Homo sapiens: one gene and its partner. The protein of the gene in region 2 purifies or fractionates together with the protein of the main gene of each other region. This does not show direct contact. Each region holds a gene or a part of one and is shown on either strand. Other genes may lie near its edges.

Region 1 (4,697 bases), on a different chromosome or scaffold from region 2:
TAAGACATGAGGTAAACCACTTACAGTGCGTGGGCTTATTTTAGACTTTTTCATATCATTTAATTCAAAAATAGTGTCTGGGATTAATATGATGCTAGCTACAGATCCTTACCCTCATGGGGCTTAATCTAGTACCATCAGCTAATATCCAATTATTAACCTGTCCTTCCACTGGGAGGATAAAAACAGAACTGGTGGTCAGTACAATAAGGTCAAGTTCAACAAAAGAACATTAACAATCTGAATAAGGTATCCCTTTCCTCTTTGTTCTATATACGTATCTTCTACCAAAACAGCAGAATGTGGAATTAATCTGCCCTTTAGTCCGATTTGGCTTAAATCAACTTTGTAGATCACAGTTTCTCAACTCTCACCCCTTGACTCCTTTGACAAACAAGTTTCTTCTTTAACGTTATTTGAAATTTCCAAACAAATTAAATATCATGACTAAAAAATATTAAAAGCACTTTTAAATCTTAGAATGTCTTTTCAAATCACAAGTCTCCCCCTCCTCTGATTGCCACCCACTCCCAGGCCCTCTGGTTAAGAAATTACTGTTGGGTGTGGTGGCTCACGCCTGTAATCCCAGCACTTTGGGAGGCCGAGGCGGGTGGATCACGAGGTCAGGAGATCGAGACCATCCTGGCTAACATGGTGAAACCCCGTCTCTACTAAAAATACAAAAAAATTAGCCGGGCATGGTGGCGGGCACCTGTGGTCCTAGCTACTCGGGAGGCTGAGGCAGGAGAATGGCGTGAACCCGGGAGGCGGAGCTTGCAGTGAGCTGAGATCGTGCCACTGCACTCCAGCCTGGGCTACAAAGCGAGACTCCGTCCCCCACAAAAAAAAGAAAAAAAAAAAAAGGAAAAAAAAAAGAAATTACTGTTGGATAAGTCTTTTTTTTTGAGACAGAAATTTTGCTCTTGTTGCCTAGGCTGGAGTGCAATGGTGGAATCTCGGCTCACCGAAACCTCCGCCTCCCGGGTTCAAGCGATTCTCCTGCCTCAGCCTCCCAAGTAGCGAGGATTACCGGCATGCACCACCACACCTGGCTAATTTTGTATTTTTAATAGAGATGGGGTTTCTCCATGTTGGTCAGGCTGGTCTCCAACTCCCAACCCCAGGTGATCTGCCCGCCTCTGTATCCCAAAGTGCTGGGATTACAGGCCTGAGCTACTGCGCCCCACCTGTTAGATGAGTCTTAAAAAAACAGGCTAAAATTCCTTACAAGATCTTCAACTTATTTAACTGTAGCAGCAGCACTGACTCAGTCAAAATATAAGCAGCAGGTTTAAAGGAATTAGCCCTTGGAAAGCAAAATCAATAAACCTAAAGTAGGTGCCCGTGTTTGTTCCACTCCGTTTCATTCCAGTTAACTGAGAAAAGATGTTATCTAAATCCTCCATGCCCTTTGCTCCCTCAATACCTAGGCCCATTACATGTTTAGATTTCAACAGTGTTCCCTCTGCTTTATAAGTAAAGCACTGTTTAATGCTCCAGGTTTATCAATCCTTTGCAATTCAACAATGAACTGGTCCAATTCTTTAATTTTCTCTAAATCTTATGTGAACTGGTTAAAAAGTTAACAAATCAATCACCTCACAAAACAAAACCTGTCCCAATTATTTATACATGGTCTACAGTGGGGAAAACACACCTCCAGCTCTTTATATACCCATACAGGTTTAATAAAAGATCTTAAAAACGGAAATATTGCTAAGTCCAGAAGCCGTTAAACAAGAGACAACACATTCATGGTTTTCTTAATAAACAGGATTTGTTATAATAGATACTAAAATAAATACAGCCTACTTCTTAACTCAGAGTTTCTCTATCTCAGCACTGCTGATATTTTAGCTTAGGTAATTTGTCATGGGGGGATTTTAGCAGTTATCTCTGATTCTGCTCATTAGATGCCAATAGTAATCCCCGATCCCCATTCCACTCTGACAACCAAAAGCGTCTCTGGACACTGCCAAATGCTCTGGGGTGGGATGAGGGTTTGGGATGAAAAGACTGTCCCTTAGCTGAGAACCATGTTCTAAGTGATGTTTCACTTCAATAAATAAAAAGATAAATGAAAAGGAATTGTTAGTCCTATATAAAGGACTTTTCTTTGGGGGTGATAAAAAGGTTCTGAAATTAGATAATAATGATGGTTGAACATCTCTGAATATACTAAACCCCACCAAATCATACAGGGTCTTGCTCTGTCACCCAGGCTGGAGTACAGTAGTGAGATAATGGCTCACTGCAGCCTTGACCTCCAGGGCTTAAGCAATCCTCCCACTGCAGCCTCCCAAGTAGCTGGGACCACAGGTACATGCCACCACCCCTGGCTAATTTTTAAAATTTTTTTTGTAGAGACGTGGTCTCACTATGTTACTTAGGCTGGTCTTGAATTCCTGGGCTTAAGTGATCCTCTTGCCTTGGCATCCCAAAGTGCTGGGATTACAGGAGTGAGCCACTGCACACGGTCCAAACTGTATACTTTAAAAGTGTAAATTTTATGGTATACAAATTACATTGAATAAAGCTGTTACTAAAAGTGAGTTCTGCCACATTCTCCATAATTAAAAGCTACTTTAGGCCAGGTGTGGTGGCTCATGCCTGTAATCCCAGTACTCCGGGAGGCCAAGGTGGGAAGATCACCTGAGGTCGGGAGCTCGAGACCAGCCTGGCCAACATGGTGAAACTCCATCTCTAGAACCGCTTGAACCCAGGAGGTGGAGATTGCAGTGAGCTGAGACCACGCCACTGCACTCCAGCCTGAGCCATAGTGAGACTCTGTCTCAAAACAAAAACAAAAACAAACAAAACAAAAGCTACTTTAAATAATGAATAACAAATGTTTCCCTAAACCAACAACATTGCATAAACACAATCGATCCACCCAGAGTGCCTAGAATTAGACTAATTATATTGGTGTTTACAGCCCAGCCATGAAAAGACATTTCATGCAATGTAATACAATATTTCACCTTCACCTTTACTGCACTATATAGATGCTCCCTGACTTATGATGAGACTGTCAGGATAAACCCTTCTCAAGTAAAAAAATGCATTTACTATCCGGATAAACCCATTGTAAAGTCAAAAAGATCCCAGTGCAAGCCACCTTTTGATTTAGTTGGGGATTGGGTAAGTTTAGCATAGTAAAGACTGAGTCAAAACTCATAAGCTCCACCATCTTGACCCCCGTACGGGTTCAGTTACATGACCTCTCTGTGCCCAATTACTTCATTTTGACAGAAGATGCCATACTACCTTTTCCTTATCCCTCCAGGGATACTCAATTTGATCATATACATAATCAAACAAAATAAGTGCCCAATGCATGCCATGCTAACCATTACACAAAATGGGAGACAGGAGGTACACAAATTCAAGTTAAACTTCTTGATTTGGTACTTTCCCACTATCAGGACCATAGCAGTATCTACTACAAATTTAAGAAACTGGCTCATAAATGTACATAAGGCAAACCTAATTACAAATAATTACTTAAAATACTGTACTCAAGTTCAGTTATTTCCTCTACCATCACGAAAAGAGAATTCCAGAATGTTTTGAGATGAAATATACCTCTTTTTTCAATGACATTACTTAGAAACACTGCTTTATCTTAATTGACACTATTCTGTATTTGTATTTAAACTTTCATAAAGAGTTTTAATTTTGGCCTTCTGGGTATCTTACTCACAGAATAACATATACATGATAGAGGATGGAACTTGACACTAGGGAATCTGTAAGCAATATATAATGGCACCCCTTAAAACCATTTCACTGTGAGAGTCAGCAGTGTATGAAAACAACCACTGCAGAGCATCTTCTCCCTATAAAAATAATCAAATAAGATGTCACACAGGACTGCATTTTGAAGCATTATGGAAATGAAAGGCCTGTGCATGAGCTTACATATGTTATTTCCAATTTTAAAGTTTGTTTTTGTTTTTTTTTTTTGAGACGGAGTCTCGCTCTGTCGCCCAGGCCGGAGGGCAGTGGTGCAATCTCAATTCACTGCAACCTCTGCCTCCTGGATTACAGGCGTGAGCCACCACGCCCAGCCCAAAACCCCGCTAATTTTTGTATTTTTAGTGGAGACTGGGTTTCACCATGTTGGCCAGGCTGGTCTCGAACTCCTGTTCTCAGGTGTTTCACCCACCTCAGCTTCCCAAAGTGCTGGGATTACAGGCATGAGCCACTGCACCCTGCCCAATTTGAAAGCATTTTAAATGTTAACCTGTATCAAACGCATTTGATTCCCTCTAGGTAAGGGGACAGCAGATAAATAATGACCACTTTCCAGATAAAGAAACTGAGATTCAAGCGGTAACTGGCTTATTACTGGCAAGTCTACTAAAGTAGTCACAATGAAAATTTAAGAAAAATGAAAAACTTCGTATTTTTAAGATTTTTTTTTGAAATGGAGTCTTGCTCTTTTGCCCAGGCTGGAGTGCAATGGCACAATCTCGGTTCACTGCAATCTCCCCCTCCCAGATTGAAGCGATTCTCCTGCCTCAGCCTCCGGAGTAGCTGGGATTACAAGCACGCGACACCACGCCCAGCTAATTTTTGTATTTTTAGTAGAGACAGAGTTTCACCATGTTGGTCAGGTTGGTCTCCAACTCCTGACCTAGTGATCCGCCCGCCTCGACCTCCCGAAGTGCTGGGATTACAGGCGTGAGCCACCG
Region 2 (5,290 bases):
GCCAGAGGTTAGAGGGACATGTTCATGGCTTAAATTTATTGCCCTGACTCTTCGGAGCGGCTTCCTCTCCTCCTCCCCACCCCCCGGCTTTTGCCATTCATGGGCCGCTGGATCAAAGCCTCCCTCTGCTCTGTTGAGGGCAGTCTTCGCAGCCCTCAGAAGCGCAATTGGAGGCTTCTGAGGAAAAATCAGTGGCAGCTCCCTCAGAAAGTGACCTGGGCATAGTGTGGCTGCACGGTCCCAGAGGCCACAGTGTGTGGCCCTCCAGACCTTTCAAGCGGCTCTTCTCTGCCTCGGCAGCCATGTATACACAGGCCCTGGAGTTGGCCCGAGGCCAGCCTTCCGTGTGTCCTCTCATGGTCTGACTTGAGATGCTTAGACTTGAAACCTTTGGCCTGGCCTGGATTTTCCCATTAGGCAAACAACCAGTTTTGGAGCTTCTAGAATGCACGCACTCTACAGATTGTTGTTACAAACCGAAGTGAACCACGGAGAGGAAGCAAAGGGTCTGTTTGTATCCATCATTCCCATTTTACAGACTGGGAGGCTGAGCCTCCGAAGCAATCCACTAAAGGTTCCCCGAGTCTTGAGTGGGAGAGCACAGGGTGAATGATCCTGAGTGTCCTGGTCCTGCCCAGTGTGGTGAACATAGGTTTCGAGTGAGGGGCACCACACGGAGCTTCTTTGAAGACCCTCCTCAGATAAACTGCTGAGTTGCAGGTGTCGCCACCTTGCGTCCTGCCACCCTTGCTAACCACAATCGCTCCAGCACTTTCAGCCGACAAAGCCTCGAGGAGAAGCTAGCGTGGGCGCTGCTGAGGGCCCTCTGCCCTTTTGTGCAGTGGTTGGGCCTCTGGCGCTAGGCTTGGAAATACACCACCACTCAGGCCTCTCTTGGAAGAACTGCATCGGGCTCCGGTGCTGGCTGCATAGGATTTGGGGAGCTGTGCTCAGAACTAGCAGCACGCGGCAGGTGCCGGCAGAAATCACAAATATCTGATGAACTTGATTACTTGGCTACTATTTATGAAAATAAATGTTCTCACGCCAATTGGAGGCTTCCCTAAAAGAAAACGGGTAGCTCTCCGGTTTAACTCTGAAGTACAACGTCTTGTTAGTTCACAAAGTAGGTGTAAGAAAGAGTTGTCCCAAACGCCCACCTCGCCCCTCTTCTCTACAACCTTTAACAGATTGCGGTGATTTTCGTTTTTGTTTACTGTTTTTTTTTTAATAGAAAAGTCCAGGTTGCTGGTTTTAGGGAAGTTAGTCCAAGGACATCTTCTAGGGGACGTGATCAATAACCCACTGGTAGAACTTCTTCCTCTTCAACCCTGGGCTGCGGACCGGGGCGCAGGATCCCCATTCGAAACTGTTGGTTCTGGGGCTGTTTCCCATTCTCCAGAGAAAGTGCAGGCCCGGGGTGTGCCCGAGAAAAGTGATGAGCAGTTGACCTCCCCTTCTCAACTTGGTCTGGAGGCTTCATCATATTTTCGGACGAAATGGGACAGAAGTGAGAATTAAAGCGGTTCTGAATAGACGACTGGCCTGAACCCAATCCCCTGAAATGGTAATATGGTTGTTATTTAAAAAGTGTAGGTATTTTCTGGTGTTTTCCCATCAAGTACCTGCCTAATTTCTGTATGGCACACGCCAGAAATCAATAGTAGTTAACAAGTCCTCCAAACAGTCTCCATCTCTTTGTTTAATCTCCTTTACAATAAAGCCAAGGGGAGAGAATTAAAAATCTTTGAAGTAGATCAAGGCTCAAAGGAATCAGCCAAGTAGACTTAAAGTAGTCACTTATTTCCCAAAACTGGTTTGTCGGGGAACAATAAAAGGAAGTAAAATTTATGGAGAAATTATACAGTGGATTTGTCACTTAAAATATCGTAACTGTCTGGAGGACAATACCCCATGCTGAGGATTAATGGTCCCGCCGGACCTTTGATTCACCAGTGCCTTTTCTTCGCCCTTGACAAATTGGATTTTTAGGAATGGGAAGGTCGCCTGGACCATTGTGTGCTAGCCATTCAGCGGCCTCGATTATGCAGGGGGCTGAGGGAACCACTCCATGTGACCCTCTCGGGTGGGACTCTGCAGCTGCTTCGCAGCGCAACTCTCTCACCAAACTCCGCGCCCTTGCGCTAGCGGTGCCAAAAGGCTCCCGCCCCGATTGAAAAGGCGCAGTGCATGCCCGCCCGCGTCACTCCGCGGGCGGAGGACGCACGTCGGGGCGCGGCTCTCTGGCTAGCGCGCAGCTCCAGCTCTGTCACTCGCGCCCTTCCAAGGACCTGGAGCACCCGAGCGCCTGCCTGGTGGCGGCGGCAACAATGCACGGAGCCGCCAGAGCGCCAGCCACCAGCGTGAGTGCCGACTGCTGCATCCCGGCCGGCTTGCGCCTCGGACCGGTGCCTGGTACCTTCAAGCTGGGCAAGTACCTGTCAGACCGCAGGGAGCCCGGGCCTAAGAAAAAGGTATTGACCATTCAGACCTCTGCCCACTGCCATTCGCCTCTCAGTGCCCTGACCCGGGAAAGGGGTACGAGAGAAAGTGGAGGAAGGGAGTGATTGAGTCGTTACCTGCTAATTCTGCCGGGTGGAAGGGGACTCCTATTATTCTGAGCAAGTAGCCTCTTTAACTGTGAGAGCTGGACGGGGTCGGGCTGAGAGGAGAGGATGTGGCCGAGAGGCGACAGCCCTGGGTGGGGTGCACTGAGCGCTGTAGGTGCCGGGACCATTCGCAGCTTGTGTTTTCCCCTGCGCTCTCGGGTCTCCTCAGTCAGAAGCCAGAAGCCCACCCCCGCACGCTGTCCGCAGCTCTCTCTGCAAAAGCACCCTCTTTCTGGGGGCTCAGGGCATCGAGACCCTTTCTTCCCTTCTGCCCTTCAATATGTTAATTTGAGGCCTAATTTCGCCTTAAAGTAATTTTTTTTCCTGAAAAAAAAAATCTTTGGGAGGCTCTCAGTTCCTAGAACCTCCTCAGATATTTTTTTTTCCCTTGCCGATGTCGGCTTGTGGGTATGCGGCATATGGAGAGAGGATGAGCAAGGTACTGGCTCTGACGCGGGCTCCAAGGGCGAGGCGCGCCCATTCGCGCGGGGCACAGGGTCAGAGCGTCTGCAGCGGGGCTCTGAGAGTCCAGAGGCCCAACCGGGAGGCGCCAGGGCCAAACCACTAGCTTTGACTCCCACACTCCACACACCGTCGCGACCCCTGACCAGAGAGACTTATAGCACTCGCCCGCTTTGGGGGCGTCCCAGGAGCCAAAGGTCGGCAAACAGCGACCGGGAAATGAAGGCAGAAGTCTGGGGTAGAAGAAAGGACTTTGGCTTCCTTGGCTTTAGCTTGCCTTGCTTGGAGCTTTCTAGTAAAAAGCTCCGGTGTCCAGCCAGCGGGACTTGCACCTCGCTCCTCCTGCAATCACGCCCCCCACTACAGTCTAAAGCGGGGTTTGGTGCCCACCGCGCATTCCTCTTTAAACGCGTTTTAATTGCTTTTAAATGGCCTGCCAGCTGCGGGCAAGCTTTTCCCCGCTTGGGCTTTGTTCCGAGACTTTAGCTGCAGGGCTCACAGGCAACTAGGTGCGATGCACACAGAATACAGGAGGCATGAGATAATTTTTTTGTTTGTTTGTCGGGGGTACGCTCTGGGCCCTGGGACTGACCTAGAAATGTCTCTACCGTGGTGTTACGGCTGCTCTCAGAACTGCAAATGGGAGAGCTGGGGTAGGGGACAACTTGGTACAAGATGTGCCTAAGCACTCAGGGAGGATGCTCTCAACACCCCTCTCCCCTCCCCGTGTCGTCAAGGTGGGGCGCAGGGAAGTGGGAGTACTGTTAGCATAGGTAGACTTTCCTCTTTCTCCCTCCCCGAAGCAAGGTCCTAAGGAATTCTCCTCCTCCCAGTAGCCCATAGTGGTCTGGCCAAACCAAAAACAACCACTTTCCTGTGTTGGGTTGGGGTGGAGGATAAACTTTCTGTTTGGGTTGTGGGCCTGGCCAAGGTGCGGGGGAGAACGACCACTGCTTGTGTTGCAGGTGCGCATGGTGAGAGGGGAGCTGGTGGACGAGTCGGGGGGCTCCCCTCTGGAGTGGATAGGGTTAATCCGGGCAGCCAGAAACTCCCAGGAACAGACTCTGGAAGCTATTGCAGACTTACCCGGAGGACAGGTACTGCGGGCTTCTCTCCACACCCCCCCACTCCCCACCGCCAATTCAGTCTACCTAACCGTCCCTGCGGTGGCCAAAAATATTAAGAGCAAAGTACTTTAGCTAGACGTCTCATTTAAACGTCTCGACAACCCTTTAAGGTAGTTACTATTGTTTTTCCGTTTGAAGGATGACGGAAGTGAGGTTCAGAGAGCTCCAGTAGCTTCTCCAGGGTCACACAGCATCAGAATCCGGATTTGAACCTTTCTTCTCAGTTGCTTTTTGACCGATTACCCAGGAAATGACATTGAACTGTTCTATTCCTTGCGTCCCAGATCTTCTACCGAGCATTGCGAGACGTCCAGCCAGGGGAGGAGCTGACAGTGTGGTATTCTAACTCCTTGGCTCAGTGGTTCGACATCCCCACCACAGCGACTCCGACTCACGACGAGAAAGGTACCCATTCCAAAAGCGTGGATGGGCAAAAGTCCAGCCCTCCTCCTCCTGTCTTGAAGCGAGTCCCTAGACATAGCTCGATCTATGTAAAATGGAATTCACATTCCCTGTATTTCAAGGCAAAGAGGAGAGAGGTCGCCACTACCTCCTTAAAATCAACCATAAACGATAACAGTGATAGTAGCAATCTGGCTCACAATGGCAGGGGAAAAAGTAGGCTCTATGAACTTAATGGGGCCATCCTTTTTCTGTTGCATATTCAAACAGACCATTATTTACTCAATTAAAATAAAAAAAATTAGGCGCGGTAGCTCACACCTGTAATCCCAGCACTTTGGGAGGCCGAGGTAGGAGGATCACTTGAGGCTAGGAGTTCGAGACCAGCCTGGGCAACATAGTGAGACCTCTGTCTCTACAACAAAAAAATAATTAGCCAGGTGCGGCGGTACATGCCTGTAGTCTTAGCTACTCAGGATGCTGAGGCAAGAGGATCACTTGAGCCCAGGAGGTCAAGGTTCCAGTGAGCCGTAATGTTACCACTGCATGCCAGCCTGGGTGACAAGTGAGACCCTGTCTCAAAATAAATAAATAAAAATAAAAAATAAAAAAGGAGCCTTAAGTTGTTGTTACAGTAATTACATCATGAGTTCCACAGAGTATAACTCAAACCTGGAATGCTTTTACAAA

The links. The genes of interacting proteins can lie anywhere in the genome.
Region 1: the proteins of PRDM13 (region 2) and EIF4B purify together in Homo sapiens (affinity purification with mass spectrometry; one large-scale study listed by BioGRID and IntAct). This does not show direct contact.

What each region holds. Positions count from the first base shown.
Region 1 is NC_000012.12:53,008,764-53,013,460, reverse strand, and holds part of EIF4B (eukaryotic translation initiation factor 4B), read right to left. Parts: intron 1-4,697. UniProt on the Homo sapiens protein: Required for the binding of mRNA to ribosomes. Functions in close association with EIF4-F and EIF4-A. Binds near the 5'-terminal cap of mRNA in presence of EIF-4F and ATP.
Region 2 is NC_000006.12:99,604,705-99,609,994, forward strand, and holds the start of PRDM13 (PR domain zinc finger protein 13), read left to right. Parts: upstream 1-2,128; 5' UTR 2,129-2,330; coding exon 2,331-2,474; intron 2,475-4,036; coding exon 4,037-4,168; intron 4,169-4,482; coding exon 4,483-4,603; intron 4,604-5,290. UniProt on the Homo sapiens protein: May be involved in transcriptional regulation. Is required for the differentiation of KISS1-expressing neurons in the arcuate (Arc) nucleus of the hypothalamus.